Homo sapiens: one gene and its partners. The protein of the gene in region 5 purifies or fractionates together with the protein of the main gene of each other region. This does not show direct contact. Each region holds a gene or a part of one and is shown on either strand. Other genes may lie near its edges.

Evidence for each region.
Region 1: the proteins of PAEP (region 5) and RTCA purify together in Homo sapiens (affinity purification with mass spectrometry; one large-scale study listed by BioGRID and IntAct). This does not show direct contact.
Region 2: the proteins of PAEP (region 5) and STK4 purify together in Homo sapiens (co-immunoprecipitation; 2 studies listed by BioGRID and IntAct, with this or other methods). This does not show direct contact.
Region 3: the proteins of PAEP (region 5) and TMEM192 purify together in Homo sapiens (affinity purification with mass spectrometry; one large-scale study listed by BioGRID and IntAct). This does not show direct contact.
Region 4: the proteins of PAEP (region 5) and MELTF purify together in Homo sapiens (co-immunoprecipitation; 2 studies listed by BioGRID and IntAct, with this or other methods). This does not show direct contact.
Region 6: the proteins of PAEP (region 5) and SLC25A23 purify together in Homo sapiens (affinity purification with mass spectrometry; one large-scale study listed by BioGRID and IntAct). This does not show direct contact.
Region 7: the proteins of PAEP (region 5) and MGME1 purify together in Homo sapiens (co-immunoprecipitation; 2 studies listed by BioGRID and IntAct, with this or other methods). This does not show direct contact.

Annotation. Positions count from the first base shown.
Region 1 is NC_000001.11:100,268,733-100,273,392, reverse strand, and holds part of RTCA (RNA 3'-terminal phosphate cyclase), read right to left. Parts: intron 2,837-4,660; coding exon 2,713-2,836; intron 1-2,712.
Region 2 is NC_000020.11:45,073,909-45,078,073, reverse strand, and holds part of STK4 (serine/threonine-protein kinase 4), read right to left. Parts: intron 3,057-4,165; coding exon 2,898-3,056; 3' UTR 1-2,897. UniProt on the Homo sapiens protein: Stress-activated, pro-apoptotic kinase which, following caspase-cleavage, enters the nucleus and induces chromatin condensation followed by internucleosomal DNA fragmentation.
Region 3 is NC_000004.12:165,081,372-165,086,031, forward strand, and holds part of TMEM192 (transmembrane protein 192), read right to left. Parts: intron 4,318-4,660; coding exon 4,215-4,317; intron 1-4,214.
Region 4 is NC_000003.12:197,005,009-197,009,668, forward strand, and holds part of MELTF (melanotransferrin isoform 1 preproprotein), read right to left. Parts: coding exon 4,610-4,660; intron 3,958-4,609; coding exon 3,801-3,957; intron 3,717-3,800; coding exon 3,649-3,716; intron 1,729-3,648; coding exon 1,541-1,728; intron 1-1,540. UniProt on the Homo sapiens protein: Involved in iron cellular uptake. Seems to be internalized and then recycled back to the cell membrane. Binds a single atom of iron per subunit. Could also bind zinc.
Region 5 is NC_000009.12:135,564,259-135,568,118, reverse strand, and holds the end of PAEP (glycodelin isoform 1 precursor), read right to left. Parts: coding exon 3,765-3,860; intron 2,782-3,764; coding exon of another isoform or gene 2,710-2,781; coding exon 2,605-2,709; intron 2,335-2,604; coding exon 2,318-2,334; exon of another isoform or gene 2,289-2,317; intron 1,586-2,288; exon of another isoform or gene 1,567-1,585; 3' UTR 1,164-1,566; downstream 1-1,163. UniProt on the Homo sapiens protein: Glycoprotein that regulates critical steps during fertilization and also has immunomonomodulatory effects. Four glycoforms, namely glycodelin-S, -A, -F and -C have been identified in reproductive tissues that differ in glycosylation and biological activity.
Region 6 is NC_000019.10:6,445,836-6,450,495, forward strand, and holds part of SLC25A23 (mitochondrial adenyl nucleotide antiporter SLC25A23), read right to left. Parts: intron 1-4,660. UniProt on the Homo sapiens protein: Electroneutral antiporter that mediates the transport of adenine nucleotides through the inner mitochondrial membrane. Originally identified as an ATP-magnesium/inorganic phosphate antiporter, it also acts as a broad specificity adenyl nucleotide antiporter.
Region 7 is NC_000020.11:17,985,221-17,989,182, reverse strand, and holds part of MGME1 (mitochondrial genome maintenance exonuclease 1 isoform 2 precursor), read right to left. Parts: intron 1,018-3,962; coding exon 885-1,017; intron 1-884. UniProt on the Homo sapiens protein: Metal-dependent single-stranded DNA (ssDNA) exonuclease involved in mitochondrial genome maintenance. Has preference for 5'-3' exonuclease activity but is also capable of endonuclease activity on linear substrates.

The DNA of each region.
Region 1 (4,660 bases), on a different chromosome or scaffold from region 5:
TGAAAAAATCAGTTTTTATCATTAGGTTAATCAGCAATATTCACTAATTTAACAAGTGTATTTATTAAACAAAAGCGCTTTGCTGGCTAGTAACTGGGTGCTATAGGTAAACAGTGTTATAAGAATATGTAGGCTGGTTCCATTTTTTTCAAATAAAAAAACTGATATGTAGCTAAATTTAAAAGTTTGACATTTATTTAATCAGAGCTGTGCAAGTCTATCTAACGAAAAAAATTGGAACTTAGGATATTTGATATCAGTGGTTATTCTACTCCGAAGGCCAATACTTCCTCACGCATCTCAATATAGTACATTTAAGAAATGAGGGGGTATTGGTGAAGAGCATTCCATTCTGTCATCTCAATTTTTTGTACAGTTGAAATCTCATTCCACAGACAATGCTTTAACATTATAAACATAAGCATTTTCCTGACATCATAAAATTATTCCTAAACAAAATCTGAATGACTCCATGGCATCCTAGCCTAATTGACTTAACGGTTCTCCAAGTTTTCATTATTAGATAATGATATATCTTATATAATGATAATTACAGTATATAATGCTCTGTTCAAATACCTTTAACATTTATCTTTAGCTGAACTTTGCAATATTGAATTAGAGGAGTTTCCTTGAAGTCAAATTATTAGGTGAGGAGAGATTAATTTTTATTATACATCCCATCGAACTGACTTTGAAAAGATTATACCATCTATTAGAATGGCAATATTTCAGAGAAAGATGGTGTTTAAGCCTGATGTCTAAGGCAACTCTTTGAGATCTACTCTAGAGATTTACTTATTTCTCTGGGTTGTCTCCTATGTATCCAGGAGGTATACAGGTTATTAACCTTGTTTTGTGTTTTTTTTTAAAGGCAGAAAAAGCTTAACAAATAAAAACCTGAAAATATCAAGTGCTAGGATGGATACAGAACAGCTGGAACCCTCTATTTGATATTTATTTTTATTTTAGAGATGGGGTCTCGCTATGTTACCCAGGCTAGACTCCAGCTTAAGCTCAAGAGATCCTCCCACCTCACCCTACCAAGTATTAAATAGCTGGGACTATAGGCACACACCACTGTGCCCACTTCAGCTGGAACTCTCATATAGTACTGGTAATAATGCAAAATGTAGCCACTTTGGAAGCTAAAATAACCTGGCTATGTATTATAAAGTTAGACATTTGCTTATTATAACAACCCAGCAAGTATTTTCCCAAGAGAAATGAAAATGTACAATCACACAAAAACTTGTATATGAATGTTAACAGTAACTTAATTTATAATTGCCAAAATCTGGAAACACCCAAATGCCCTTCAATAGATGAATGGATATGCAAACTGGTACATCCATATACGAGAACACAACTCAAGTTTTCATTGCAGATACAAGCAACATGGATGAATCTCAAATGTATTATGGAGAGCAAAAAACCCAGACTCAAAGCCTACGTACAGTATTATCCCTTATATGACATTCTGAACAAAAGGCAAAACTATGACAGAAAACAGATCAGCAGTTGCCAGGGGCTGAGGCTCAGGACTGATTACAAAAACGTATAAGGGAATTTTTTAGAGTAACGGAACTATTCTATGTCTTGATTGTGGTAGATGGTTCATAACTGTGAATCATGTCACTGTCAAAAATCACAGAACTGCATGTTAAAAAGGGTGGATTCAATTGAAAAAATTACACTTTAATAAATCTAGAAGAAAAAAGATTATACCACTTTTCTCTCCCACTAGTTATATGAGCATGCCAGTATTTTTTAAATCATTTTTTAAATGTTTGATCCTAGAATGGAAGGGGCTTAATAGAAAAAAAAAGTTTGAGTTTCCCTCCAAATCATAATCCTTGTATTTATAAAATAACACATCACAACTGATATAATTTATATCACACTCGAGGTGTTTTTTGTTTTTTTAAAGACAGCATCTTGCTTTATCACCCAGGATGGAGTGCCAACATAGCTCACTGCAAACTCAACCTCCCAGGCTCAAGTGATCCTCCCACCTCAGCCTCCTGAGTAGCTTGGACAGGTGTGCACCACCATGCCTGGCTAATTTTTCTGTGTGTAGTGTTTTTTGTTTTTTATTTATATTATTTTTTTGTAGAGATGGGATTTCACCATGTTGCCCAGGCTGGTCTTGAACTTCTAAGCTCAAGTGATCTGCCTACCTCAGCCTCCCAGAGTGCTAGGATTACAGGTGTGAGCCACCACACCGGGCCCTACACTTGAGTTTTTTTTTTTAATTCACTATAAACACTATTCCAAGATATAACAACAAACTTAAAGTAAACATAATTCCCCACCCCCTACTGCAATAGACACATTTGGGAGGCTGAGGTGGGAGGATCCTTAGAGCTCAGGAGTTCAAGACCAGCCTAGGCAACATAGTGAGGCATCGACTCTACAAAAAATTTAAAAAAATTGGCTGGGTGTGTGCCTGTAGTCCCAGCTACTCAGGAGGCCAAGACAGGAGGATTGCTTGAGCTCAGGAGGTTGAGTATGCAGTGAGCTGTGATATGCAACTGTACTCCAGCCTTGGCAACAGCACTGTCTCAAAAAAAAAAAGAAAGAAAGAAAGAAAAGACACCATGAAGAGATAAACAAGAAAGTCACAAAAAAACACTCAGGATATATTTAGAGAATGGAGACTCAGAAGCATGTATGAGATCATCTTAGTTTGTCAACAACAAAAGCCCTTACCATCACTGTATAATCGATCTGTGGTGCCATTTCAGCATTAGTTCCACCTTTCAAATGAAGTTCTGATGGAGAAGCAGCAAAGAGAACACACGGCATTGAGACCTGCATCAAGAGGCACACACTCCTAAGGAGAAGGCAGAAGGGGCTTATTTTCATTTTCTTTTCTGCATTTTCTTTTCAAACTCTTAAATAAGCTATATTCTTGTTCATCACTACCAACTAAAGCACAGACAACTGTGAAGGCAGGTATATGCCATTGAGTTTCTAGTTAAAAAACATTTTAGTGTCTGAATAGTAAAATCCTGAATTTTAAAGAAAAACAGTATTTCACCATAGAAAAATAGCTTTAAATGATAACCAAACCTGGGTCTGAATCTTCAACTAAACACATTAGCTGTGTGACCTTGGCTAAGTTCTGATACTTTTCTTTATATTACAAAAAAGTAAAAAAGAAAAAAAATTAAAAATAAAACCTTCTTCAAAAGTTTTACAAAAGAATTCTTGAAACTAGCAGTTTATGAAAATGCTTTCAAAATAGACAAGGTCTGGATATGATTAGTTACTATATAACAAGGTACTGTTCCAGGTATAAAGATATAGTTCCTGTCATTGTGGAGTTCATGATATGATAGAATAATATTTTACGCAGCCATAAAAGAGAATGAGTTCATGTCCTTTGCAGGGACATGGATGAAGCTGGAAACCATCATTCTCAGTAAACTAACATAGGAACAGAAAAGCAAACGCTGCATGTTCTCACTCATAAGTGGCAGTTGAACAATGAGAACACATGGGCACAGGGAGGGGAACATCACACACCAGGGCTTGTCGGGGGGCAGGTGGCAAGGGGAGGGAGAGCACTAGGACAAATACCTAATGCATGCAGGGCTTAAAACCTAGATGACCAGTTGATGGGTGCAGCAAACCACTATGGCACATGTGTACATATGTGACAAACCTGCACATTCTGCACATGTATCCAGAACTTAAAGTATAATAAAATATTTTAATAATTATTAATTTTAATAATAACAAACACTCACAGCTTGGCCGGGCGTGGTGGCTCATGCCTGTATCCCAGCACTTTGGGAGACAGAGGTGGGATGATCACTCGAGCCCAGGAGTTCAAAACCAATCTGGGCAACATAGTGAGACTCCATCTTTACAAAAAATTTAAAAATTAACCAGGCATTGTGGTGCACGCCTGTAGTCTCAGCACTTTAGGAGAATCGCCTGAGCCCAAGAGGTCAAGGCTACAGTGAGCCATGATCATGCCACTGCACTCCAGCCTGGGAGACCAAAAAAAAAAAAAAAAAAGACTGATAGCTAAATATTTCACATGGGAAGTTTTAGTGAAGTAATCCTTGCTTTACTTGCCTGTTTGGTCCTTATAGTCAAATAATGTGAGAAATCACAAGAAATAGTTATGTAACATGATGAATTTCATAAAGTGAAACACTTGGTCATTATCTTTTCTTTTTTTGAGACAGGGGCTCCTTCCATCACCCAGGCTGGAGTGCAGCGGCACAATCTCAGTTCACTGCACCTTCCACCTCCAAGGCTCAAGCCTCAGCTTCTCAAGTAGATGGGACTACCGGCATGTACCACCATGCCCAGCTAATTTTTATTTATATATATAAATATATAAATATATATATATGACGGGGTTTTGCCATGTTGCCCAGGCTGGTCTCAAATTTGTGAGCTCAAGCGATCCACCCACCTCGGCCTCCCAAAGTGCTGGGACTACAGGCGTGAGCCACCGCACCTGGCCTGGTTGTTTTCTAAATGAGCCATTATCTCCCTTCTCCAAAGTTAAGTGAAAGCAATCATATTCATAAGTAGTTTGAAAGGGAATTCGACATAGCCTCTTAGCTATCAAAAGACAGATCTTTATTTAACTCACTTACACAATGATGCTTAAGTATTGAACTGGGAAGTCTCTATC
Region 2 (4,165 bases), on a different chromosome or scaffold from region 5:
AGCCCAAGGCTCATTGAAAGCAAGCTGACATATCTTAAATTTAGTATTCAACAACAACAACAACAACTAGGACTTGTTCCTTTGCCTTTCTGTCACTAGAAAACAAATATACCTTGTCAGGAAATTTCTCTGATCCAAAACAAATTGACTTCTGGCCAAAAGGCTTCATCAAGCTAGACTGGTAAGCAATAGACTTTGTTGGATCAGCAAGCTGGGTGCACACATTCCTGAAACAAAACAAACTCCAGATCAAAGTTCATGACCCAAGAATAGTTATGGGGGAAAACTGAACTTTCTTTTATTTGGATCTAGCTTAGGAAGGGAGAAAATGGGCTTTCTCCTCCTCTCTGGCCAAGTGCAAAGTTCTTTGTTTAAAAAAGAAAGAGAGGCCAGGAGCGGTGGCTCATGCCTGTAATCCCAGCAGTGTGGGAGGCTGAGGCGGGTGGATCACCTGAGGTCAGGAGTTCAAGACCAGCCTGACTGACATGGTGAAACCCCGTCTCTACTACAAATACAAAAAAATAATCTGGGCATGGTGGCATATGCTGTAATCCCAGCAGAAGAATCGCTTGAACCCGGGAGGCGGAGGTTGCAGTGAGCCAAGATCGTGCCATTGTACTCCAGCCTGGGCGACAAGAGCGAAAATCCATCTCAAAGAATAAAAAGAAAAAAGAAAGAGAGAGAGAGACAGAACTATTAATTCGCACAGCAAATGGTGCAGGGGTGTGCATCCTGGATGCTTTGGTTTTTAAAACTTACTTGGCTATCAGACTTAACTACTAATTCAGCTGTCTTTCCAACCTAAAAATGCCAGTTCGAGTTATTTAGTCTATGCAAGAAAAGGTGGTCACTTCATTTTAAACAGGCTTGTGACTTTCCTTTTTTGTGTAAATATTGACCCCCTATAGTGATGCTATGAATCCTGATTCTATCATTTACTAGCTGCATGACCTTGGGAAGGAATCTTTCTCTCTGAACTTATTTCTTCAACTACAAAATGGAGATAAAGTAGTTAAGTCACAGGGTTATTGTGAAGTTTAGAGCCTACCCAGCTCAGTGCCTGATATATAATAGGTGCTCAACAAATGGTAGCTGTCATTTATTATTCCAGCAAGATCCTCAAATTGTCCTCTGTTTTCCGTATCCGCCACATAGCTATTTCAGTTGCCAAGCCCTGAAGACTAACAACTGCCTCTTGCATTTTTTAAAAACTTGCTTTAATTGCAAATAACAGAATCTGGCCACAGAAGAGGCACATTCCCTGCCTTTCCATTGATTCCCAGGTTTCAGGAGCAAAAGCAATTATGGAGTCAAATTACAGTATCCTGAGGTGCAACCCAGTCATGGCTCCCCATCTGAGGGAAAGAGGTAAAGTTGCAGGAAGATGGCTCTATGCTGTCTTTTGCAAAGCCCTCTGATCTGCTTCAGGCCCGAAACCTGCCTCCATGGGTGCTTGTCTGCTATATCTGGTAGATGTTGTGGAGCTCAAGGACTCGCTGAAACTGAATGATCTGGCTCGTCCAGGGAATCTCTTTACAGCCAGGTCATCTACTGAAGAGCCAAGGCAAGAGCAAGTTTCTGTTAGCAAGGTTCCCTGGAACAATTAACCAAGACTGACACAGGTCTCTTCCCCCAAAGAAGGGGCTGCATGGTTCGGTGGCCTGGGAGTGAGGACCCTGAATTCTAGTCTCAGCTCTTAACGCTAACTTGCTTTGTGATTTTGGCCATTCCCCTCTCTACACCTCAGTTTTGCGATCATCCGTACAAGAGGATCAGATCAGATGATCTCTATAGTCCCTTCCAGCTCTGACATTCTGTGTGTTCAGATTGAGCCTCCTGGAAAACAAATCTTAGTCTAATATTCATTTATCCTTTCCAGGCTGCTTAGCAGTAAAAGAGAAAAGAAAACAGTCACATATTTGAACGTGGGTCACAAAAGCAATCCCCTCTACCCCTGTGTGTAAGGAATGTGGAGCAACATGCCACGTGTATGATTTTTACATGAACAATGAGAGCTTCAAAAACGCTTTTCCTTTGTGGACTGAACACAGTCCCGTGTTTGCTGAGAGTCCCTGGTAGAGATCATGTCTCCTCTTAAGGCACTGGGCAGTATCTGTGCTGTGACTTTAGGCAGTTGAGAGAGTGGAGATGGATGAAAGGCATTGAAAGAGCAAAGGCCAATTTGCAAAGAGGGTGCCAGGCTTCTCCTGGGACTCAAAGAGTAAACATAAACTCTCAAAGCTTTCCCTTGGACATCACCAATAGCTCCAGAAGCCAGTGATGACCACACAAGGCTGAAACCACGGTACAAGAACTGTCCCAAACCTAATTTTTAAATGCAGCCCTGCAAAGGGGGAGGTTGGCTCCTGGGATTCAGTGACCCCCTAACAGCCTCCCGGTGTCCTCTGCCCTCATGTTCCACAGTACCATAATCTTACAGAAAAGAGGCAAACCGTTTAAAACTGTACCTGTACAGAGATGCCACCACACTGCGTGGGGAATCTATTTATAATTTATATATATATATGCATATTTATATTTTTTTAAAAGTCTTCCAGAAAGAACAATTGAAAGCTATTGGGAGAAGAAAAACAGACAATGTAAAACTTTCCCAGCTATCACTCAACTAGGAGTCTCTGTTCCTGGGGTTTAAAACTCTGAGTTAAAAGCGCCAATATAAATCCTTTGAGATAATATACCTGACCAATGTACATACACACATCAAGATGGCACGCTGACTGTCAAGAGAGCCCTTCCCACTGGCGCACATTCCTGAGTTCACAAAGGTGCTGTGGAGAGACGACAGAGCAGAAGTGCTGGCTAACAAACATGAGGCAAGCCATCCAGAATTCACCCAAAGCCTGGGTGGAGCTGGGGCCCTCACAGCCTGGCCTTGCTCAGAAGTTTTGTTGCCGTCTCTTCTTAGCCTCTATGGCATCCAGGATGGGCTGCCGCTTGGACTGGTACTTCTGCCGGATCTCTTCAATCTCCTGCTCCATCATGGGGTCCAGGGCCAAGAGCCTCTTCTGAAGGTCCTCCACTGTCCAACTCTTAAGCTAGAAGAGAAGTGGAAGGTATAGTCACGACAAAGCTTAAGTCAGTGGCAGAACAGTGCAGAAGCCCAGCCTTCCCAGGCACCCAGAGGGAAGGGAGACAGGAGGAAGACACTGTGGTCAGATCACAGGTTGAGTGGTGGTGGTTGGAAAGTGACAATTCATTCCAAAGCATGGCATACCTTGAAGCTTGTCTGAGATAATTTATCCCTGGAAGAGATCTAAGTGCTAACCGCTTTGATTTAATGTGCCTTGACCAAGAACTTAGTGAATAATACTCTCACCTCCCCTATCTTTTAAGTTAATTAAATATAGATTCATTGTTAGGGCATTAAAATAACAGTAACTTGCTGTATGTGAAATAATGGTTGCCTCCCCGTTCTTGTTCTGTCTACGAGATAAGCGTCTATCTGGACAGCGCCTTTCCCACTTTCAGGATACGACACCATGGAGGATCGATGCTGATGAGGCGCAGATGCCATCCCCTAACCCTGCCTTCCCACACCCCCAATGTCTTGGCACTGCCCTATTATCATCACCAGCATTTACTTGAGGCTACTATATACCAGGTAACAGTCTAAGCCCCTTGGGAATACAGACGCAACCCTTGGCAGGGGTTGGGGTAAGGGTGGGTAGTTAGAAAAACCTCAAACTTCTGAGATTAAGTTTCTATCATCCAAAGAAAAACAATGAGTTGATATATAAATTAATAATAATGGCTGGCATTTAGTGTTTTCTATGCACCAGACACTGAGTGCTTTACATATATGGATTCCTTTAATCCTCAGAGCAACCCATGCTACAAGGACATTATTATCCCTATGTTACAGATGAACAGCCCAAGGAGGAGGGTAGCTAAGTAACCTGCCCAATGTCTCCCAACTAGTAAGTGGCAGAATCAAGACTCAAACCCAGGCAGCATGGCTCTAGAGTCTATGCTCTTAACCAGTGTTGCAGAACAGAAGACTAGCAAAGCACAGGTTTTAGAAGTAACTCAACCTTTGTTTAAAATGTGGTTCTGCCTGTTGCAGATGCCATGAGACTCTGTCAAGTTACCAATCTCTCCAGGCCTTCCCCATCTACAGAAGTCAGACAGCAGTGTCTCATCACAT
Region 3 (4,660 bases), on a different chromosome or scaffold from region 5:
TTGAGACCGAGTCTCTATTTTTTTTTTTTTGAGACGGAAACTTGCTCTGTTGCCCAGGCTGGAGCACAGTGGTGCGATCTCAGCTCACTGCAAACTCCGCCTCATGGGTTCATGCCATTCTCCTGCCTCAGCCTCCTGAGTAGCTGGGACTATAAGCGCCCATCATCACGCCCGGCTAATTTTTTTTTTTTTGTATTTTTCAGTAGAGATGGGGTTTCACCATATTAGCCAGGATGGTCTCGATATCCTGACCCCATGATCCACCCGCCTCGGCCTCCCAAAGTGCTGGGATTACAGGCGTGAGCCACCGTGTCCGGCAGAGACCGAGTCTTGCTCTGTGGCCCAGGCTGGAGTGCAATGGCGCAATCTCGGCTCACTGCAACCTCTGCCTCCCCGGTTCAAGCTATTCTTCTGCCTCAGCCTCTAGGATTACAGGCATGTACCACCATGCCCGGCTAATTTTTGTATTTTTAGTAGAGACGGGGTTTCACCATGTTGACCAGGCTGGTCTCAAACTGCTGACCTCAAGTGATCCACCCTCCTTGGCCTCCTATAGTGCTGGGATTACAGGCGTGAGCCACCATGACTGACCATCTTCTTTTTTTTTTTTTTTTTCAACACAGAGTCTCACTCCATTGCCCAGGCTGGAGTGCAGTGGCATGATCTCGGCTCACAGCAACCTCCGCCTCCAGGGTTCCCGCGATTCTCCTGCCTCACCCTCCCGAGTAGCTGGGACTACAGGCGTGCACCACCACACCCAGCTAATTTTTATATTTTTAGTAGAGATGGGGTTTCAGCACGTTGACCAGGCTGGTCTTAAACTCCTGACCTCAAGTGATCCACCCGCCTCAGCCTCCCAACGTGCTGGGAATACAGGCCTAAGCCACCACACCCAGACCTGGACATCGTCTATATACAGTAGACTTTCAATTAACATCCCTGTTCCCTGCCCTATGTTCCACTCCTGGGCATCCTGTTCATTTCTGAGTTCCAAGTCTCTCTGGGGCTACACAAAAAGAGTGGCTGCCTCCTTGGCTTTATTTCTCCCCGTGTCCTCTAAATGTAGCCTCTCTGCCCTGTGGTATTGTCTACCGCTCCTTCATCTGTATTCTGTAGCCCACACATTTTCAGAAATCACTCAACCATCGATGGTCCCTTTCTCCTCCAGTTTTTCTGCTAGTGTGGGTAGGTTGGTCTTTTTTAATCCTTCACTATCCTTTTGGAAGGATCTGGGGAGGGTGAAGGGATAAACGTGTGGCTAGATTTACCTTCTTTCATTGGAAGTTGATTCAAATTTTCAAACTGAGATGCATTTTCAAAGAAGCATTCCATACAAATTTTAAAAGTAAAAGAGGAATATAAACTGAATTTTTTTTTTTTTGGAACAAAGTTTCACTCTCGTTGCCCAGGCTGGAGTGCAATGGCGTGATCTCGGCTCACTGCAACCTCTGCCTCCCGGGTCCAAGCGATTCTCCTGCCTCAGCCTCCTGAGTAGCTGGGATTACAGGTGCGCACCACCACGCCCGGCTAATTTTTGTATACTCAGTAGAGACAGGGTTTCACCATGCTGACCAGGCTGGTCTGAACTTCTGACCTCAGGTGATGCACCCGCCTCGGCCTCACAAAGTACTGGGATTACAGGCGTGAGCCACCACGTCCGGCATAAACTGAATTTCATTGCCCCAAAGTTAACCCCATGAGGTGAAGGGAATACATTTTAAAAAGCTTTCCATTAAGTCATAAGAGAGCAATATTAGGTAAACTCTTCAGTGCTCAGGGGGAACAAGATGAAATATGAAAAGGGTCAAGGTCAGGAAGAACAGTCTCTGAATTTAATAAGCCCAAAAGTCAACAAAGAGATAATCAACAATTGATACTAAAGTTATTCCTCTATTTAGGTTAGAATGAAGAAAAAGAGTAAACAAAATAAGAAGGCAGATCATGGTAAGTGAAAAGTGACAAAAAAAAGTTGTATTTTCTAGGGGAAAGAATCTATTTCACTAAAGACACCTCCGTTTTCATAGTTCTGTACGTATTGAGAATTATAGACAGTATAATCCAGGCTTCAAGAAACCGAGGGTAAAGGATTCTAGAACTATCAAGATATCATCAGTTTACACTGTGGGACAGAGATAACGATCCCAAGAAGAACAACCTTGGACTTGCTGCTCATTAAGTGTTTGTTTTTGTTTTTTGTTCTTTTTTCTTTTTATTCATTAAGTATTTATATTCCACACTATAATAAAAAGCAATGTGCATCCTGATTCAACACTGTCACACCTGTGTTGTCACTTCACACCTGTGCCTAACAACAGTTCAGTTTATAAAAGCTAATTTAAAAATGACACTAATTCAAAAATTGGCCTTACTAAAAGCCAATACATTAAACTATATTTATTTCAACAACTGTTTTTAAAAGTATCTCTTTCCTTTATCTATAAAGTTTTTTGTTGTTGTTGTTTTGTTTCGAGACAGAGTCTTGCTCTGTTATCCAGGCTGGAGTGCAGTGGCGCAATCTTAGCTCACTGCAACCTCCGCCTCACAGGTTCAAGCGATTCTCCTGCCTCAGCCTCCTGAGTAGCTGGGACTACAGGTGTGCATCACTTTGCCCAGCTAATTTTTGTATATTTAGTAGAGATGGGGTTTCACCATATTGGTCAGGCTGGACTCAAACTCCTGACCTCGTGATCTGCCCACCTCAGCCTCTTAAAAGTGCTAGGATTACAGGCATGAGCCACCGCGCCCAGTCATGTTTTTTTCTTTTTCTTTTTTTAACTAGTACATCAGTAATGGCACTGAGTCCATTTCTTAAGCCCCTAAGTAATACACTTTCTTTTTTTTGTTTGAGATGGAGTCTCGCTCTGTTGCCCAGGCTGGAGTACAGTGGCGCCATCTTGGCTCACTGCAACCTCTGTCTCCCGGGTTCAAGCGATTCTCCTGCCTCAGCCTCTCAAGTAGCTGGGATTACAGGTATGCGCCACTGTGCCTGGCTAGTTTTTGTATTTTTAGTAGAGATGGGGTTTCATCATGTTGGCCAGGCTGGTCTTGAACTCCTGACCTCAGGTGATCTACCCACCTCGGCCTCCGAAAGTGCTGGGATTACAGGCGTGAGCTGCCCCACCTGGCCCACACTTTCTTTATATATACTGACTATATTCTTATGTCTGTTGCTATCCACTTCAGATGATGTTAAGGAATAACTCGTGTCCCAGATTATATAGATCCAAAAGCAGGATGAGAAGAACCACAGACATGGCCAGGAGTGGTGTAATCATGCCTGTAATCCCAGCACTTTGGGAGGCCGAGGTGGATGGATCACTTGAGGTCAGGAGTTTGAGACCAGCCTGGCCAACATGGTGAAACCTTGTCGCTACTAAAAATACAAAAATTAGCTGGGCATGTATAGTTTTTTACATCTACTTTAGCCCCAAGATCTCCAACAGATATGAATGATATTTTAATTACCATGGAAGTCACTTAGGGAGAGACTGGATAGAAACAAGGGTGGGCAGACCGGGCTGGCTGTTTGGGAGGCTGAAATGGGAGGATTGCTTGAGCCCAGGAGTTTGAGGCCAGCCTGGGCAATACAGAGAGACTCTATCCCTTAAAAAGAAAATAACAGGCCGGGCGAGGTGGCTCACGCCTGTGATCCCAGCACTTTGGGAGGCTGAGGCGGGCGGATCACCTGAGGTCAGGAGTTCAAGACCAGCCTGACCAACATGGAGAAACCCCATCTCTACTAAAAATACAAAATTAGCCAAGCGTGGTGGTGCATGCCTGTAATCCCAGCTACTGGGAGGCTGAGGCAGGAGAATCGCTTGAAACTGGGAGGTGGAGACTACGGTGAGCCAAGATCATGCCACTGCACTCCAGCCTGGGCAACAAGAGCAAAACTCCATCTCAAAAAAAAAAAAAAAAAAAAGACACCTATAAAAAAAGGTGCTTCAAGGAGGGAGTAACCAGTTAATGATGTCAAAAGCTCTTGAGAGGTTAAATAGGTTGGCTAAGTGGTTAATTTTTTGCATCAAATATATGGCCTATTTAATACATTTACACATCCTGATTTAGACTTGATTTCACCACAGCTGAAAGGAAATAAACAAATCAAACAAATGTAAAAGTACAAATACACAATCATAAATTCCAAGCATCAGAATGGTTTCTAGCTTTCTAGGGGAAAAAACTCAATTATTTTATTCTCACCTAAATCTTACCTGAATCCAGTCTCCGAGGTAATATTGCTGGGGTAAGCATAGATTTTTTCTTCTTCAAGTATATCAGGCTCTGGTTTAGCTTTATTAAATCTCCGGATTTTCACTAAAATAATAAAGTCATTATTAGATCGAATTCTGAAAGACAAGTCTAGTTTCATTTTTTCAAATTATGCTAATTTGCCGTTCTTATTAACGTCCTTGAGTATTTCAAATTCTACTATGTGCCAGGCCTGTTCTAAGCCCTGGGAATATAGGGATTACATTAGTATTGAAATAGCAATAATAGCTGACATTTATTGTGCACTTAGAACACATGAGGCACAGTTTAAATGTTTTACATGGATGCCCTCATTCAGTTCTCATAAACACCTGCATGAAGTGGATGCTCCTATTACCCCGCAGTGAAGCCCAGAGAAGTTGAGCAACCAGCCAGCCATCTAATTCAG
Region 4 (4,660 bases), on a different chromosome or scaffold from region 5:
ATGCGTCAGTTCACAATGTCAAAGTTTAGGAACAGGCCTGGCGAGCCAGCCAGCTCTGCAGTTCTGTGGTGCTGGTGGGTGTGGAGAAGGCAATTTCAGCATAAGTCGGGGGAGGGGGAGTGGTTAGAAACCAGTGGCTCCATTGTGAGACAACCTGGGTTTAAATTCTAGGTATATTTTGAAAGCACAACCAATGGGATCTGCTGATAGATTGGCTGTAGAGCACGAGAGGAAGACCGGAGTCAAAAATGACTCCCGAGGAAATGGAAAAGCTAAAGTTGCTCTTAATTGAAGTGGGGAAGACTGAAGGAGGGACGGGGGTCCAACTTTGGACTTGATCCATTTGAGATGACTGTTAGAAACACAAGTCAAAATGTCAAGTATGTAGTTAAATATGCAAGTTTGGGACTGATGTCTGAAGATGTAAATTTAGAAGCCATCTGTATATAGATGGTATTTGATGACATGGGATTGGATGAGATCAAGGGTAAGCTGTAGACAGGGAAGAGGGCTGAGAACTGAATCCTAGGGCTAACAGGTCAGGGAGATGGGGAGGAAATCAGCAGAGAAGACTGAGGAGTGGCCAGAGAGTGAGAGGACAGCCAGGCAGGGCTGAGGACCTGGGCATCTGCAGGGGAAGGTGTTTCCAGGAGGAGGGAGAGCTGTGGCCAGTGCCACTGAGAGGTCAAGTAAAATGAAGACTGAGAAATGGCCACTGGGTTTAGCAACATGGGTCACTGTGACCTTGACAAGAACAGCTTCAGGGCCCTGGTGGGAGCCTGTCTGGGGTAGTCTCCATCCTTAAGAGGGGCCAGAGGAGAGGACTTGCTAACTCAGTCTCCATCCTTAAGAGAGGCCAGAGGAGAGGACTTGTTAACTCCAGAGCAGACCACTCTTTGGAGGAGTTTTGCTTCGAAAGGGAGCAGGATTGGCCGGGCACAGTGGCTCATGCCTGTAATCCCAGCACTTTGGGAGGCCGAGGTGGGCGGATCACGAGGTCAGGAGATCGAGACCATCCTGGCTAACACGGTGAAACCCCTTCTCTACTAAAAAATAGAAAAAATTAGCCAGGCATGGTGGCGGGTGCCTGTAGTCCCAGCTACTCAGGAGGCTGAGGTGGGAGAATGGCGTGAACCCGGGAGGCGGAGCTTGCAGTGAGCCGAGATAGTGCCACTGCACTCCAGCCTGGGGCGACAGAGTAAGACTCCGTCTCAAAAAAAAAAGAAAAAAAGGGAGCAGGATTACAGCTGCAAGAGGATGGATGTGAGACCAAGAGGTTAGTTTGTTCTTTAAGGATGGCAGAAGTCACAGCATGTTTCATGTTGGTGAAAATGGTCCGACTGAGAAGGGAAAATCAACGATGCAGGAGGCAGAGGGGACAGTTTCTGGAGGGATGTCCTTGCGTAAGTGAAAATCACAGAATTTCCCCCGGGCTTCCTCAATTTCTCTAGAGGTCTGCTCCAGGTAGACTGAGGCCTCCCAGGGGCTCAGCTTACCTCTGCTGCACACCCCTCAATGAGGTAGCCCCACCCTGGCTCACCTGGGCCTTGTCCAGCAGTCCATACACGGTGAAGATGTTGGTGTCGGGCCGGACCATCACGGCGTGGGGTGGTATCTGTGCCAGGTTGCAGGCTGCAAACTGGGACACCTCGGCTCGGGCCCCGTTGGGGCACAGCAGTTCATAGTCCTCTGACCTGAGCTCAGCAGCCCAGGGCTCGGAATTGTGGCCTGAGGGGGGTAAAGCAGTGTGTGTGGGGACGTTCCGGGAGTGGAGAGAAGTGTAAAGAGAAGCTGCTATCCTGGGACCCCAAGGCCTTCACCACAGGGAGGTGGCAACATCTGGCCAGCTCCCCAACCCTCTCCATTCTCCACGTGCTCTGCTGTGTTACCGGGGTGAAAGAACCCAGCTGTGTTCATGCCATTAGCAGGAGCTGCCATTAATTAGCAGGGAGTAGGGAGTACCTACTATGTGACAAGTACTTTACACGCGTTGCTTGATCCCCACAACAGTAACGCAGGGTAGGTGTTTTTGTCCCCATTTTACAGGTGAGGAAACTGAGGCTGTTAATCACTCCCAGGCAGAGAACCCCATCTATGTGTTACATCCTCAAGCCTGAGTGTGGGGTGGCTCCCTGAAGGTGGTGGGTGATTGTCCCTAAGGGCTGAAGTTCTCAAATGGAACAGGGTATAGCATCACTTGTGGATGCAGAAGGCAGCTTCAAGGGCCCTTGCTTGCAAAGAATCTTATTCAGGAGGTCTCAGATCAGGCTCAAGAATCTGCATGTTAAACCAGCATCCCACTGATTCTAAAGCAGGCGGTCTCGGGCTGCCTGAGAAAATGCTGCCCTCAGGAATCACATTTTCATGTCTCTGTGCATTCACTTAGTATCCATCCTCCTCCCATTTCCAGGAAATCCAGGTGGGCCTTGAGGAGAGCTAAAGATAAAAGGGAAAGGAGTGGCCCTGGGAGGCGGGTGACTCACTGCAAGTGAACCTCCCAAGGCCTCTCCAGCACCTGCCCGCCTCCCCTGACCCCATCCCAGACGACACCATGCACAGATCTGGGACCAGGCAGGCCCGCTGGGCTCGTGCAGGAGCACACAGCCCCTCCCTGGGGGAGGGTTTCAGGTGTTCTTGGTAGGAGGCTGGGTGGGGGAGCTGGGCTGTGGCAACAGGAAGGGTTCAGGGCCTGGAGCCCTCCCTAGCTCTGCTGGGGCAAATGGTCCTACCGCCTTGGTGACCCCCATAGGAGGCAAGATCCAAGTTTTGAAACACTAACTGAGGTTTTCGTTTTTTTCCCTGCACGTCTTGCTTCCCATTGTCCAGTCCCCTCCCCACCGGGCCACAGTTGTGCCTTTCTGGGCTAAGTCTATAGGAGGAGACATGTTGGGAGCGAGTGGAGAAGACTGGGCCTCCAGCATTTGGGGTTTCAAAGCCTGGGGTGTAGGCAGGGTATGCAGACAGTACAAGCCTTTGGTGTTGGAGGAAAACAGCCTCTAGTCTTCAAAACGGACACAGATTCCTTCACGGAGAACAAGAAGAAGGGGAAGTGATATAAGTCAGGGGAGCGTGTGCTCTGATAGGACCATGTATGTACTGGGGTCCCGGAGCAGAGCGTTCCTGAGCTCTTTGTCCCAGGCGGAGCCCAGGAAGGTGACTCCAGGAAGAAAACCCCCTGTGTGGTATGTTGGGCGTGCCCTGCCTCGGTGTGGCTTGGGGGCTGCAGAGAGATTTCCTTGCATGAGGCAGTGACCTGCTCAGGAACACAGACCAGATACTGATTGAACTCATGACCCTGTGGAGAGGCTCATGCCACTCCCACCTCACACCTTGGCACTACATCAATACTCCCAGAAGGGGGTCTTTCCAGATTGACTGGGATTGAGTTTCTACCGTTTCGGTGGATTAGGGACTTGAATTCCAGGCCAGTAAAAACCGTCATGTATCCAGCACCCCTGGATGTGTGGTCTGAGGTCTGTTCTTACCCTGTGACCCTTGGGGCTCCCAGCTTCCCAGGGGGCACAGCCTTCTAGACTCAGCCTCTCTGAGCTGCTGCTTGGCCCCAGCCCAGCATGGTGTCTGGATGGTGCTGAAGATGGGGAACAGTCCCCCCGACCTACCTTTGGCCCTGCTCTTGCCCCCACCTACCGTTTGTGTTGTCAAAGACGGTTGTGTGCCTGACGAAGGCAACGTCACCCGCATTCTCCACCAGGCACCTGCCACACAGAGGGCAGGGCAGGCGTCGGCAGGAGGGTCCCAGCCTCTGCACACAGCCCCAGACTGCCAGGCCACCCGGGTACCTGAAGGCGCCGCGGTAGCCGTAATACCGCTCCTGGCTGTTGCCCACACACTTGTTGCGGCCCTGCTCGTCCCCCACGCACAGTGCACACAGCGAGGAGGGGTAGTTCTTGGGGTTGTTCACGGGCACGCAGCTGGCATTGAAGAACTCGCTCACTGCTGGGGTGGAGGGAAGGGCAATGATGAGGGGCCAGCAGTGGAAAGTGTGGGAGGGAGCTGGGCGGGCCGCTCCCCCACAGGTCTGCCCACCCCCCGGATCCTACACTGCAAGGCCACCTGTCTGCTCCGCTCCCCTCAGCTCTGAGTGGAGTGTCTCCTGGAGGATCTCAGTGCGGGGAATGCAGAGGTTGTCTAGATACAGCATCTCCATCACCAAACATCACCCAGCCTTCACTTGAACTCCCTCAGGGACAGGGATCTCACTACCTCACTATTTTGTTCCAATCAGAGCAGGTGTCCAGCTGTCTGGGAGTGGGAGCTGCCAACCCTAGTGCCCTCTGTGTGCTTGTGTCAGTGGTTAGAAAAAAAAGTGCTTGTATGTTTTCTGAGTTAACAGCCAGGACAGAGGTGTGTGGCCTGTCAGCCCAAGGGTCTTGCCAGTTTCCATGAATATTGTGTGATCTAACACACTGGAGGGGCTTCATGTATAGCATATGGTGGGTCCTTCTGTCCCCAGCTTATGGAGATACCTGGGCACATATGCAGAAGCCTGGCCACCTTCCAACAAGGTCCTCTCCCCAACAGGCTGCGGGTCCCTAGCTAACCCCAGAGAAGGCTTCCCCAGTCTGCGTTCCTAAAAAGGGGGGGGTACCTGTGAGGACGTCACAGTCCTTGGGCCGGATGAAGCCTCTCTGAATAAGGG
Region 5 (3,860 bases):
AGACAGTAAGGGCTTCTGCCCCATGGGCAGTCATGAGGATGAAATGGCCTATTTGAGTGTTGTTGTTGTTGTTGTTGTTTTTTTGGGTTTTTTTTTTTTTGAGATGGAGTCTCGCTCTGTCACCCAGGCTGGAGTGCAATGGTGCGATCTCGGCTCATTGCAACCTCTGCCTCCTGGGCTCAAGCGATTCTCCTGCTTCAGCCTCCAGAGTAGCTGGGATTATAGGTCGTCCGCCACCACACCCAGCTGATTTTTTTTATTTTCAATACAGATGGGGTTTCACCATGTTGGCCATCCTGGTCCCGAACCCCTGACCTCAGGTTATCTGCCTGCCTCGGCCTCCCAAAGTGCTGGGATTACAGGTGTGAGCCCCCATGCCTGGGTTAAAATGGCCTGTTTGTTATATAGACAGTGCGGACGTTCCTTACTGCCTCACAAGTCCTAGTTACTCCTGGTAGGGCCTGGTTTTGTGGAGTTTTGATGGAGATATTTTCCCAGCATTAGAAACGAGTGTGGAAGCTTTGCCCCCTCCCCATGCCTGCGACTCTTCACATTGCCTCGTTTCACCTGTTCCCGAAAGGAGCAGGAGATCCCTGGCCGCTTGCCCGGCTGCTCTCGATGCTGGGGGCTGGGCTGGGACACAGACCTCTGACTGTGTCTGTCTGTCTGCCTTGGGAAGGGTCCTTACCTACTCTGTCTCCAGTCTTCTCTGATCTGTTTTGGATGCTTATATTTGCCTTGAAATCATCTCTTTTGGATTGTAAAAAATATATTCTGGAGTCAAATAGCATAATCCCTTATGACTCTTTTAATCTATTTTCTCTTAATCTGTGGTGATTGATACTTGCTGGAATTTTTTTTCCTGGGTGTTTCTGACAGGTGAGCTAAATCCTACCATGCCCACCCCTCCCCACCTGGGGGCACAGGTGCATGAATTTGATATGTTTCTCTGATTTTGTCATTTTTGCTTTTATCTTCCTTCATTCTATTTTCTTACTTTCCTCATTCTAACGCTTTTTTTTCTAACAAGAGCTCATTACAGATTCATTGATTTTAATTATTTCTTGCTAACCCATTTCAGTATTAAAGACTATGAGTTTTCCTCTGGGCTCATCAATTCTGATATGAGTGTCCTGGTTTTATTGTTCTAGACATTTCACAAGTTTGTGAAAGTGGACCCTTTTGTTTTGTAGATAAGAAACTTGAGGTATTTTCTCCACCAGAAGCTGCCCATGGGTCTGTAGGAGCTCCGGTTCTGCCAGGCGGTGGCCTGGGCCTGCCCCGACCCCAGGCCCTCGTCCCTGAATCCCACACCCAGCAGTGGCTGCGCATCCAGACAGGACATGCTCCAAGGGTTTATTAATAACCTCTGCCAGAGACTCTGCCCCCAGGGAGCAGCCTCCCCATGGCCGTGGTGCAGGTGTGCAGCAGGAAGGGGATGGCGACACAGATGACCACGTCATCGTCTTCTGAGCTGTGGTTATTCTTTGAAAGGGCAGGAGGAAGTCCCACTGCTCTGGAGGTGTGGAAGGGTGGGAGTCTGGTCTTCCTGGAGGCGGAGGTGAGCTGTTGGGTTTACAGGTCACTTAAGTAGAGGGAGGAAGAGCAGGGTGTTTCGGGGGAGCCCTGGAAGGATGTGGTGGGCTTGAGGACACCCCCTTAAGAATGTGGCACTGAAATCCCAGCACTTTGGGAGGCTAAAGCGGGGGGATCATGAGGTCAAGAGATTGAGACCATCGTGGCCAACATGGTGAAACCCCGTTTCTATTAAAAATACAAAAATTAGCTGGGCATGGTGGCACACGCCTGTGGTTCCAGCAACTCGGGGGGTTGAGGCAGGAGAATCGCTTGAACCCAGGAGGTCGAGGTTGCAGTGAGCTGAGATTGTGCCACTGCACTCCAGCCTGGTGACAGAGCGAGACTCCATCTTAAAAAAAGAAAAAAAAAAAAGAACGTGGGACCGAGACCTGCAGGTCCCCAGCTTCTCATGCCCTTCCATGTAACCATCCTCCTTCCTCCTCCTATAGCCCCCACCATTTCCAACCAACACCCCTAACCCCAAAAGAAAGCATGAGGTCTGACTATAGGGCACAAGCCCGTGACTAATACAATGGCTGCAAGACACAGGCTGGGCTCGTGAATGGGGACGTCAGCAGCCTGGCTTTCTGGAATCACAAGACCAGACCCCAGTTCATTCCTGTAGGGTCAGCCCTGAACTGGACACAGTAGGGTCTGTCCCAGGGGCCCAGAGAGGCAGCCGCAGACAGTGGGCGAGGCTGATACATTACCCAGGAGGCAGGACCAGGCAGGAGCTCACCTAGAAACGGCACGGCTCTGTGGGAGGAGATGGGACAGTGGAGGTGTCAGCGAGAGAAGAGACAGCTGGGGACACAGCAGCCCCAGGGCTAGAGAAGGGATGAAAGGATGGTGGGAGAGGGCAGGACCCCACCTCAGGGTGGCTCTGCACCCCAGAAGGCCAGGGGAGAACAGGGGAGGGGCCAAAAAGGAGTGACCTGAGTCCTGCAGAGCCAGCAGGGGGCTCGGGCTAAGAAAGAGGCAGCTTCTCCTCCAGCTGAGGCTGGGCGTGTCCTAGGCAGAGCTCACCTTCCATCTGTTTCAAGTCCAGCAAGTACCATAGGTGCCTGGGCAGGGGCCTGAAAGCCCTGATGAATCCCTGCATGATCTCATCGTCCTCCACCAGGACTCTGGCTGTGGAAGAGGCTGGGTCAGTCCTGGGCCCCTGGGGCTTCCATGAGAGCTGGGGAGCTCCAGAGGCCTTGCCTGAGGAGGGAGGGCAGAGAAGGAGGCCCCAGTGCTCCGAGGTCTGGCAGAGTTTGGTCTGGAGTAGGTCCCTAGGGCGGTCTCCGGGGCTCTGTCCACTGCACCTCCAGGTTCCCTGACCCCAGCTCCCACTCCTTGGCCCGGCCCCCTCTGCTCCGCTCTGGGCAGCGCTGGGGTCTGCACAGCTTAGGATGGTGTCTACAGCGTCACAGGAGAGCACAGTGCCTGGCTCTCCCAGTGCCCGGCTCTCACCAAGCATGGCTGAGGCTGATCAAGAAGACACCTGTGTGACCCCAGAGGAAACACTGTGCTCAGAAACATGGGGAAGGGCTGTGCCTATGTGGCTATTTTGGTATTCCTGGCCTTCGTTTGGTTGACAGCATCATAGGTTTCAGGGCGTTTTGACTGGACGCCCAGTGAGTATTAATCTATCCACCAAGCCCAGCCCCTTGACTGGCGACCGTCCCACTGGCCCTATATCAGCTCCTTGCTTTGTCAGAGGACTCGATGAACCGCTGGAGAAAAACTCAGCCTGGCCGGGCGTGGTGGCTCACGCCTGTAATCCCAGCCCTTTGGGAGGCCAAGGCGGGTGGATCACTTGATCCAGGAGTTGGAGACCAGCCTGGCCAACATGGTGAAACCCCGTCTCTACCAAAAAATACAAAAATTAGCTGGGCATGGTGGCGTGCGCCTGTAATCCCAGCTACTCTGGAGGCTGAGGCACGAGAATCGCTTGAATCTGGGAGGCAGAAGTTGCAGTGAGCCGAGATCACGTCACTACACTCCAGCCTGAGTGACAGAATGAGACCCTTTCTCAAAAAAACAAAGCAAACAACAAACAAATAAAAAAAACCAAGAAAAAAAAAGTCAGCCCACAGGCACCGAGGTGGACAGGAAGCCAGTTGTCAGCTCCCCAGGGTTCCCAGCCACGGACGTAGCTGCTGCCTCTCACCCACGTTGAGCTCATGTGCTGTGAGACCCACCCAGGTACTGGCACATCATGCTCTGGATGGGGGTGGTGGTGTCCTGTAGGCAGAGAAACAGGAAATTGTCGTAGTCAGTATCGAGCAGCGTGGCCT
Region 6 (4,660 bases), on a different chromosome or scaffold from region 5:
GAGCCCAGGAGCCTGAGACCAGCCTCGGAAACATAGCAAGACTCTGTCTCTACAAAAACAAACAAACACACAAACAAACAAACAAACAAAAAAAAACTGGATGTGATGGTGCATGCCTGTGGTCCCAGCTACTCAAGAGGCTGAAGTGGGAGGATTGCTTGAACCCAGGAATTCAAGGCTGTAGTGAGCCGTGATGCACTCCAGCCTGGGCGACAAGAGTGAGACTCAGTATCAAAAAGAAAAAAGGTCGGGCCTGGCGTCCTCACACTGGTAATCCCAGTGCTTTGGGAGGCTGAGATGGGTGGATCACTTGAGGTCAGGAGTTCGAGACCAGCCTGGCCAATATGGCGAAACTCCATCTCTACTAAAAATACCAAAATTAGCCGGTGTGGTGGCAGGCACCTGTAATCCCAGCTACTCAGGAAGCTGAGGCAGGAGAATCGCCTGAACCGGGGAGGCGGAGGTTGCAGCGAGGCAAGATCACACCACTGCACTCCAGCCTGGGCAATAAGAGCAAGACTGTCTCAAAAACAAACAAATGAACAAAAAAACACTCTCCAACGACACTGCCTGTGGTAGATGCTGTGAGTACACCACCTTCATCCCTTCCCACTCCAATTCAGACCTGCTGACTTCTTACTGCCAACATTTACCCAAAGACTTTGCTTGTGGACTTTCTCTGAACGCAGGCCAGCCGGCTCTGACCACTTAGGAATGGGCAGAAAGCCCTGGGAAATTAGCATCTCCAGATGCAACCTTCAAAAGACTGACCTGGTGGATCAATACCCCAGCTCCCTCATCTCTCTGGTGCAGCATGTCTTATGCTGCCTCCCACAGATCTCTAGAGGGCTGGAACTCCATTTGCTAGGAATAGTAACTTGCTTGATAACATACTGTTACGGGTTGAATCATGTCCCTCCTTTGGGGGGGAACATGTTGATGTCCTAACCCCCAGTATCTTAGAAGGTGACATTCTTTGGAAATAGGGTCTTTGCAGATCTAATTAGTTAAGATGAGTAGGGTAACAGGGTAGACCCTTAGTCCAGTATGACTGGTGTCCGTAGAGGAGAAAGACAGAGACACACACGGAGAAAGACAGCCAGGTGACAGCGGAGGCAGAGATTTGAGTGAATGTATCTACAAGCCAAAGAATGTCCAGGGTTGCTGGGAACAAGCAGAAACTGAAAGAAGGAAGGAAGGAAGGATTCTCCCCTAACAAGTTTGAGAGGGAGTATGGCTCTGCTGACACCTTGATTTTGCACTTCTGGCCTCTGGAACTGTGAGACAATAACTTTCTGTTGTTTTAAGCCAACCAGTTTGTGATACTTTGTTACAGCAGTCCTAGGAAACTAACATACTCATACTGTGTGCATTGACTCCCTGTCTCATTACCTCCCCAATAAATCACTTGTCCTCACGTCCCAGTTTCAGGGTCTGTTTTGGAAGGATCTCAAACTAAGACCAAAACTATTATTATTATTATTGAGACAGGGTCTCGCTCTCACACCCAGGCTGGAGTGCAGTGGTGAAATCTCGGCTCACTGCAACCTCCGCCTCCTGGGCTCAGGTGATCCTCCCTACTTCAACCTCTGGAGTAGCCAGGATTACAGCTGTGCACCACCACACCCGGCTAATTATCTTTATTTTTATTTTATTATTATTTTTTGAGACACAGTCTCACCCTGTCGCCTGGGTTGGAGTGCAATGGCACCATCTCGGCTCACTGCAACCCCACCTCCCAGGTTCAAGTGATTCTCCTGCATCAGCCTCCTGTGTAGCTGGGATTACAGGCTTATGCCACCGGGATTACAGGCATGTGCCACCAGGCTTGGCTAATTTTTTGCTTTTTTTTTGAGACGGAGTCTCGTTCTGTCGCCCAGGCTGGAGTGCAGCGGCACAATCTCAGCTCACTGCAACCTCCACCTCCCGGGTTCAAGAAATTCTCCTGTCTTAGCCTCCCAGGTAGCTGGGATTGCAGGCACACACAATCACACCCGGCTGATTTTTGTATTTTTAGTAAAGACAGGGTTTAACCATGTTGGCCAGGCTGGTCTCCAACTCCTGACCTCAAGTGATCTGCCTGCCTCTCCCTCCCAAAGTGCTGGGATTACAGGAGTGAGCCACCATGCCCGGCCCTATTATCTCTATTTTATAGAAAAGAAACTGAGGCTCGGGAAGTTACTTGCCCAAAGCTACAAAATAAAGGTGAGAACCAACATTCACAGCTGTATGTGAATCTAGAACTGTGCACCTGAAGACTTTAGGGTGGCTAATCCCTTCTGAAGCCTTCTGCCAAGGTGACTGTAAGAACAAGACCTTCTTTGCTTTGCGGCTGGGAGAGGCTTATAGGTTTCATTTCCTATGCCAATTCTAATCCACCAGAAATTGCTGCCTGAAACTGGAATTGTGTTGAGCAGGACTCAGTGCTGTGATGGATTAGTAATGCCTAGCCCAGGCACAGACTGGGTAAAATAGGCAAGTACTTAACATTATTGCCTTTGAAATTTTAGAAGCCTTCTTTTGGGTCTAGAACAGCACTTGCCAAATAGATGTTTAATGGGTTATTATTAAGATCAATCTGTTGAAAAGAAGTTCTAAAGACGGCCGGGTGTGGTGGCTCATGCCTGTAATCCCAGCATTTTTTTTTTTTTTTGAGATGAAATCTCGCTCTCTCACCCAGGGTGGAGGGCAGTGGCGCGATCTTGGCTCACAGCAAACTCCGCCTCCTGGGTTCAAGCGATTCTCCTGTCTCAGCCTCCCGAGTAGCTGGGATTACAGGTGCCCACCACCACGCCCAGCTATTTTTTGTATTTTTAGTAGAAATGGGGTTTCACCATGTTGGCCAGGATGGTCTTGATCTCTTGATCTTGTGATCCACCCCCCTCAGCCTCCCAAAGTGCTGGGATTACAGGTGTGAGCCACTGCACCTGGCAATTCCAGCATTTTGGGAGGCCGAGGTGGTCGGATCACTTGACGTCAGGAGTTCAAGACCAGCCTGGCCAACATAGTGAAACCCCGTCTCTACTAAAAATACAAAAATTAGCCTGGCGTGGTGGCGCACACCTGTAATCCCAGCTACTCGGCAGGCTGAGGCAGGAGAATTGCTTGAATCTGGGAGGCAGAGGTTGGAGTGAGCTGAGATCACACCACTGCACTCCAGCCTGGGTGACAGAGTGAGACTCTGTCTCAAAAAAAAAGAAAAAAAAAAGTTCTAAAGACTAGATTAATGTGGCCAGCACTGGGTTAAAAACAAAAAAAGTTAAATCACTTTACTGAGAGACTTCTCGGAGCCTTTAAGGGACAAACACAGATTTTGAAACTCCAAGGTTTCTAAAACCTCTTAGACTTTTAAAGTCCCTTTTTGGGTAAAGAATGCATTAAATAATAAGACTGTGTCTTCTTTCTGTCTTTCTTTCTTTCTTTTTTTTTTTTTTTGAGACAGGATCTTGCTCTGTTGCTGAAGCTGGAGTGCATTGGCATGATCACAGCTCACTGAAACCTCTGCGTACTGGGCTCAAGCAATTCTCCCATCTCAGCCTCCTGAGTAGCTGGCACTACAGGTGTGCACCACCACACCTGGCTATTTTTTTTTTTTTTGAGACAGAGTCTTGCTCTGTCACCCAGGCTGGAGTGCAGTGGCACGATCTCAGCTCACTGCAAGCTCCGCTTCCCAGGTTCATGCCATTCTCCTGCCTCAGCCTCCCAAGCAGCTGGGATTACAGGTGCCCGCCACCATGCCTGGCTAATTTTTTGTATTTTTAGTAGAGATGGGGTTTCACCATGTTGGCCAGGATGGTCTCGATCTCTTGACCTTGTGATCCACCCGCCTCGGCCTCCCAAAGTGCTGGGATTACAAGCGTGAGCCACCGTGCCTGGCCACCTGGCTAATTTTTAAATTGTTTTATAGAGACTGGTCTCGAACTCCTGGGCTCAAGCAATCCTCCCACCTCGGCCTCCCAAAGTGCTGGGATTACAGGCACAAGCCACTGCTCCTGGCCGCATCTTATTTCTACTCACAACTCTTTTTTTTTTTTTTTTTTTTTTGAGATGGAGTTTCACTCTGTCACCTGTGCAGTGCAAGAACTCGGCTCACTGCAACCCCCATGCCCCGCCCTGGGTTCAAGCGATTCTCCTACCTCAGACTCCTGAGTAGCTGGGATTATAGGTGCCCACCACCACGCTCGGCTAATTTTTGTATTTTTAGCAGAGCTGGGGTTTCACCATGTTGGCCAGGCTGGTCTTGAACTCCTGACCTCAGGTGATCCACCGGCCTCGGCTTCCCAACGTGCTGGGATTATAGGTGTGAGCCACCGTGACCGGCCTCTACTCATACCTCTTAATGGCTTCCTATTTTACTTAGAAGACCCTGTACCCTGCCCTGATCAGTCCCCCCCAGACACCTAAGACTTCCACTCCTCCAAAAGGCCGTATTTGTTCCTGCTTCCAGACCTGGGTACTAGATTTGTGCATGCTCCCTTGTGATAATACGCCCAACCCATGGCTTCAATGTCACCTTCTTGGAGGCGTTCCTCAACCCCCCTCCCGCCCACTGTTACTGAAGATGACAAATCCTGTCTTGTGATCTTCTGAGAGCTTTTCTAGGAGCTGAAACTATCTTATTTGCTGGTTGATTGCCTGCCTTGTTTATGGGAATGGGCAT
Region 7 (3,962 bases), on a different chromosome or scaffold from region 5:
AACTCCTGACATCAGGTGATCTGCCCAACTCGGCCTCCCAAAGTGCTGGAATTATAGGCTTGGGCCACCACACCTGGCCTATTTATTTATTTTTGAGACAGGGTTTTGCTCTGTCGGCCAGGCTAGAGTGCAGTGGTACAATCTCGGCTCACTGGAACCTCCACTTCCTGGGCTCAAGCAATCCTCCCACCTCAGCCTCCCAAGTAGCTGGCACAAGTGTGCGCCACCATGTCCAGCTAATTTTTGTATTTTTTTTGTAGATACGGGGTTTCACTATGTTGCCCAGGCTGGACTCAAACTCCTGAGCACAAGCAATCTGCCTGCCTCGGCCTCCCAAAGTGCGTGAGCCACTGTGCCCAGCCAAAAAGTGCTTTTTTAAGTGGGAAAGGAACAAGGAAGACGTTAAGCAATGGGATAAAAATAGAGATTAAAAAAGGAAAAACCTCAAGGAGTTCTATTTTTTAACTTTTTTTTTTTTTACAATTTTTCTCCTCCTACCCCCCCACTGAGAAGTTTTTTTTTTTTTTTTTGAGACAGATTCGAGATGGAGTCTCACTCTCTTGCCCAGGCTGGAGTGTAGTGGCGCAATCTTGGCTCACTACAACCTCCACCTCGCGGGTTCAAGCAATTCTCCTGCCTCAGCTACTAGAATAGCTGGGATTACAGGCATGAGCCACCATGCCCAGCTAGTTTTTGTATTTTTGGTAAAGACAGGGTTTCACCATATTGGCCAGGCTGGTCTTGAACTCCTGACCTCAAGTGATCCACCGGCCTTGGCCTCCCAAAGTGCTAGGATTACAGGCATGAGCCACTGCGCCCGGCCCGGAGTTATAGTTTTAAGTAAGCATTGAGCAAAGCTTTAAGTAAAGGCTCAGTGTCCTGACCTGAAAGCTGTAGTTGGTATCATGGTTCATGGCACCCATGTATGCCACAACTTGCAGTGGGTTGTCAAATGTACTTTGAATAAAAGGCTTTGGTTTCTCTGATGTCTTCCAATCAATCACACAGAGCTTGCCCCTAAAGAGAAACCACAGGAAGACTTTGTAGGTAATAGATCACAATGAAAATCTCTACTAGGTTAACAGTTCTCTTATGTATAGTTTGTTACTTGTCAGCCAATGACCATTGCTCTTATTCACCATTTTTTTCCTTTTTTAAAAAAGAGATGGGGTTTCATATGTTGCCCAGGCTAAACGCATACTCCTGGGCTCAAGTGATCCTCCCACCTCAGCCTCCCAAGTAGCTGGGACTATAAGTGCACCCCCCCACTTTTTCTCCCTCTTTTTTTGCATCAAATAACCAGTGGATTCCTCCCCCCATCCCCTATCCTGGTCGGGTTTATACTTGCCAAATGCAAATATCAAAAGGATACAGAGAGTGGACCAGTAACTGGTGACTCTCAAAGGACTCTATCGGTTCAATCTGTCTTTCATGACTTCAATTTCAAAATCAGCAGTTTATAGGGAGATTTTGTACAAAGCATGTATATTACTTACATGTCACTATAGCTCTAGACAGTTACACCTCATGCAAACTCAGTCTAGAGCAGCACTGGCTAAAAGAAGTAAAATGTGAGCCATGTGTCATTTTAAATTTTCTAGTAGCCACATCGGAAAAGAAAAAAAAAATACAGCTGAAATTTTAACATTTTACTTAACCCAACATATCCAAAATATCATTTCAACATGTAATCAACTAACAAATGATTAATGGGATATTTTACGTCTTTTTTTTATTATAGGGATATTTTACATTCTTTTTTGTACAAAGTCATTGAAATGTAGTTTGTATATTGCTATAGCACACCTTAGTTTGGCCTGACCACATTCAAATGCTCAATAGCTATAGGGGTTAGTGGCTACTCTACTGGACAGTTTAGGTTTAGAGATAATTTTATTGTCTTCAGAATTGTTTTGTAATATTGCCAAGTTTGACAATCTGTGTAGTTGAGAAAAGGGCCCCAGTAACTCTAGGATGCCATTCCTGGTTCTTCTTTTTTTTTTTTTTTTTTTAGATGGAGTCTCACTCAGGCTGGAGTGCAGTGGTGTAATCTCGGCTTACCACAACCTCCGCCTCCTGGGTTCAAGCTATTCTTCTGCCTCAGCCCCCTGAGTAGCTGGCATTACATGTGTGCGCCACCTCGCCCAGCTAATTTTTGTATTTTTAGTAGAGATGGGGTTTCGCCCTATTGGCCAGGCTGGTTTCAACTCCTAACCTCAAGTGATCCACCCGCCTTGGCCTCCCAAACTGCTGGGATTACAGGTGTGAGCCACCATGTTATATTTCTGCCACAGAACACTGTTTGCAGCAATGTACTGTAATTGTAGAACTTAATAAATGTAAAAAAAAAAACCTTAATAGCATTCTGAAAACTATAAAATATTGATGAAAGAAACTGAAAATGATACAAATAAATGGTAAGATATCCTCTGTTTATGGACTGGAAGAATATTGTTAAAATGTCCATACTATCCAAAGCAATCTATAGGTTCCACGCAATCTTTATCATAATTCCAATGGCAGGCCAGGTGTGATGGCTCACACCTGTAATCTCCAGCACTTTGGGAGGCCAAGGCAGGTGGACTGCTTGAGCTCAGGAGCCCGAGACCAGCCTGGGCAACATGGTGAAACCCTGTCTCTATAAAAAATACCAAAAAATCAGCCAGGTGTTGTGGCTGGAGCCTGTTGTCCCAGCTACTCAGGAGGCTGAGCCCAGGAGGTGGAGTTTGCAGTGAGCCGAGATTGCACCACTGCACAACAGCGTGGGTAACAAAGCCAGACCCTGTCTCAGGAAAAAAGAAAAAAAAAAAATTCTGCCGGGCACGGTGGCTTACACCTGTAATCCCAGCACTTTGGGAGGCCAAGGTGGGCAGATCACCTGAGGTCAGGAGCTCCAGACCAGCCTGGCCAACATGGTGAAACCTCGTCTCTACTAAAAATACAAAAATTAGCCAGGCGTGGTGATGTGCCCCTGTAATCCCAGCTACTCGGGAGGCTGAGGCAGGAGAATTACTTGAACCTGGGAGGCAGAAGTTGCAGTGAGCTGAGACTGTGCCATTGCACTGCAGCCTGGGCGACAAGGGTGAAACTCTGTCTCAAAAAGAAAAAAAAATTCCAACATCATTTTTCACAGAAATAGAAAAAAAAAAATCCTAAAATTAACACGGAACCACAAAAGACTCCGAATAGCCAAAGCAATCTTGAGTGAAAAGAATGAAGTCGGAGGCATCACACTGCCTGATTTCAAAGTACAGTCATGTGTAGCTTAATGACAGGGATATGTCCTGAGAAATGCATGGTTAGGCAATTTTGTCATTGTGCAAACATAGAGTATATTACACAAACCTAGGTAGGATAGCCTACTACACACCCAGACCTTTGCTCCTAGGCTACAAACCTGTACAGCATGTTACTGTACTGAATACTGCTGGCAACTATAACACAATGGTAAGCATTAGTGCATCTAAACACAGAAAAGGTACAGTAAAAATGTGGTATAAAAGATAAAAAACAGTATACTTGTATAGGGCACCTACCACGAATGCAGCTTGCAGGACTAGAAGTTGCTCTGGGTGATTGAGTGAGTGAGCGGTGAGTGAATGTGAGGGCCTGGGACATTACTGTATACTACTATAGACTTTATAAACACTGTACACTTACGCTACACTAAATTTATAAAAAACGTTTTTCTTTCTTCAATAATACATTAACTTTAGCTTACTGTAACTTTTTTACTGTATAAACTTCTTTAATTATTTTGAGATGGTGTTTCACTCTTGTTGCCCAGGCTGGAGTGCAATGGCACAATTTTGGCTCACTGCAACCTCCACCTCCCAGGTTCAAGCGATTCTCCTGCCTCAGCCTCCCAAATAGCTGGGATTACAGGCATGCACCACCACGCTTGGCTAATTTTGTATTTTTAGCAGAGATGGGGTTTTGCCATTTTGGCCAGGCTGGTTTCA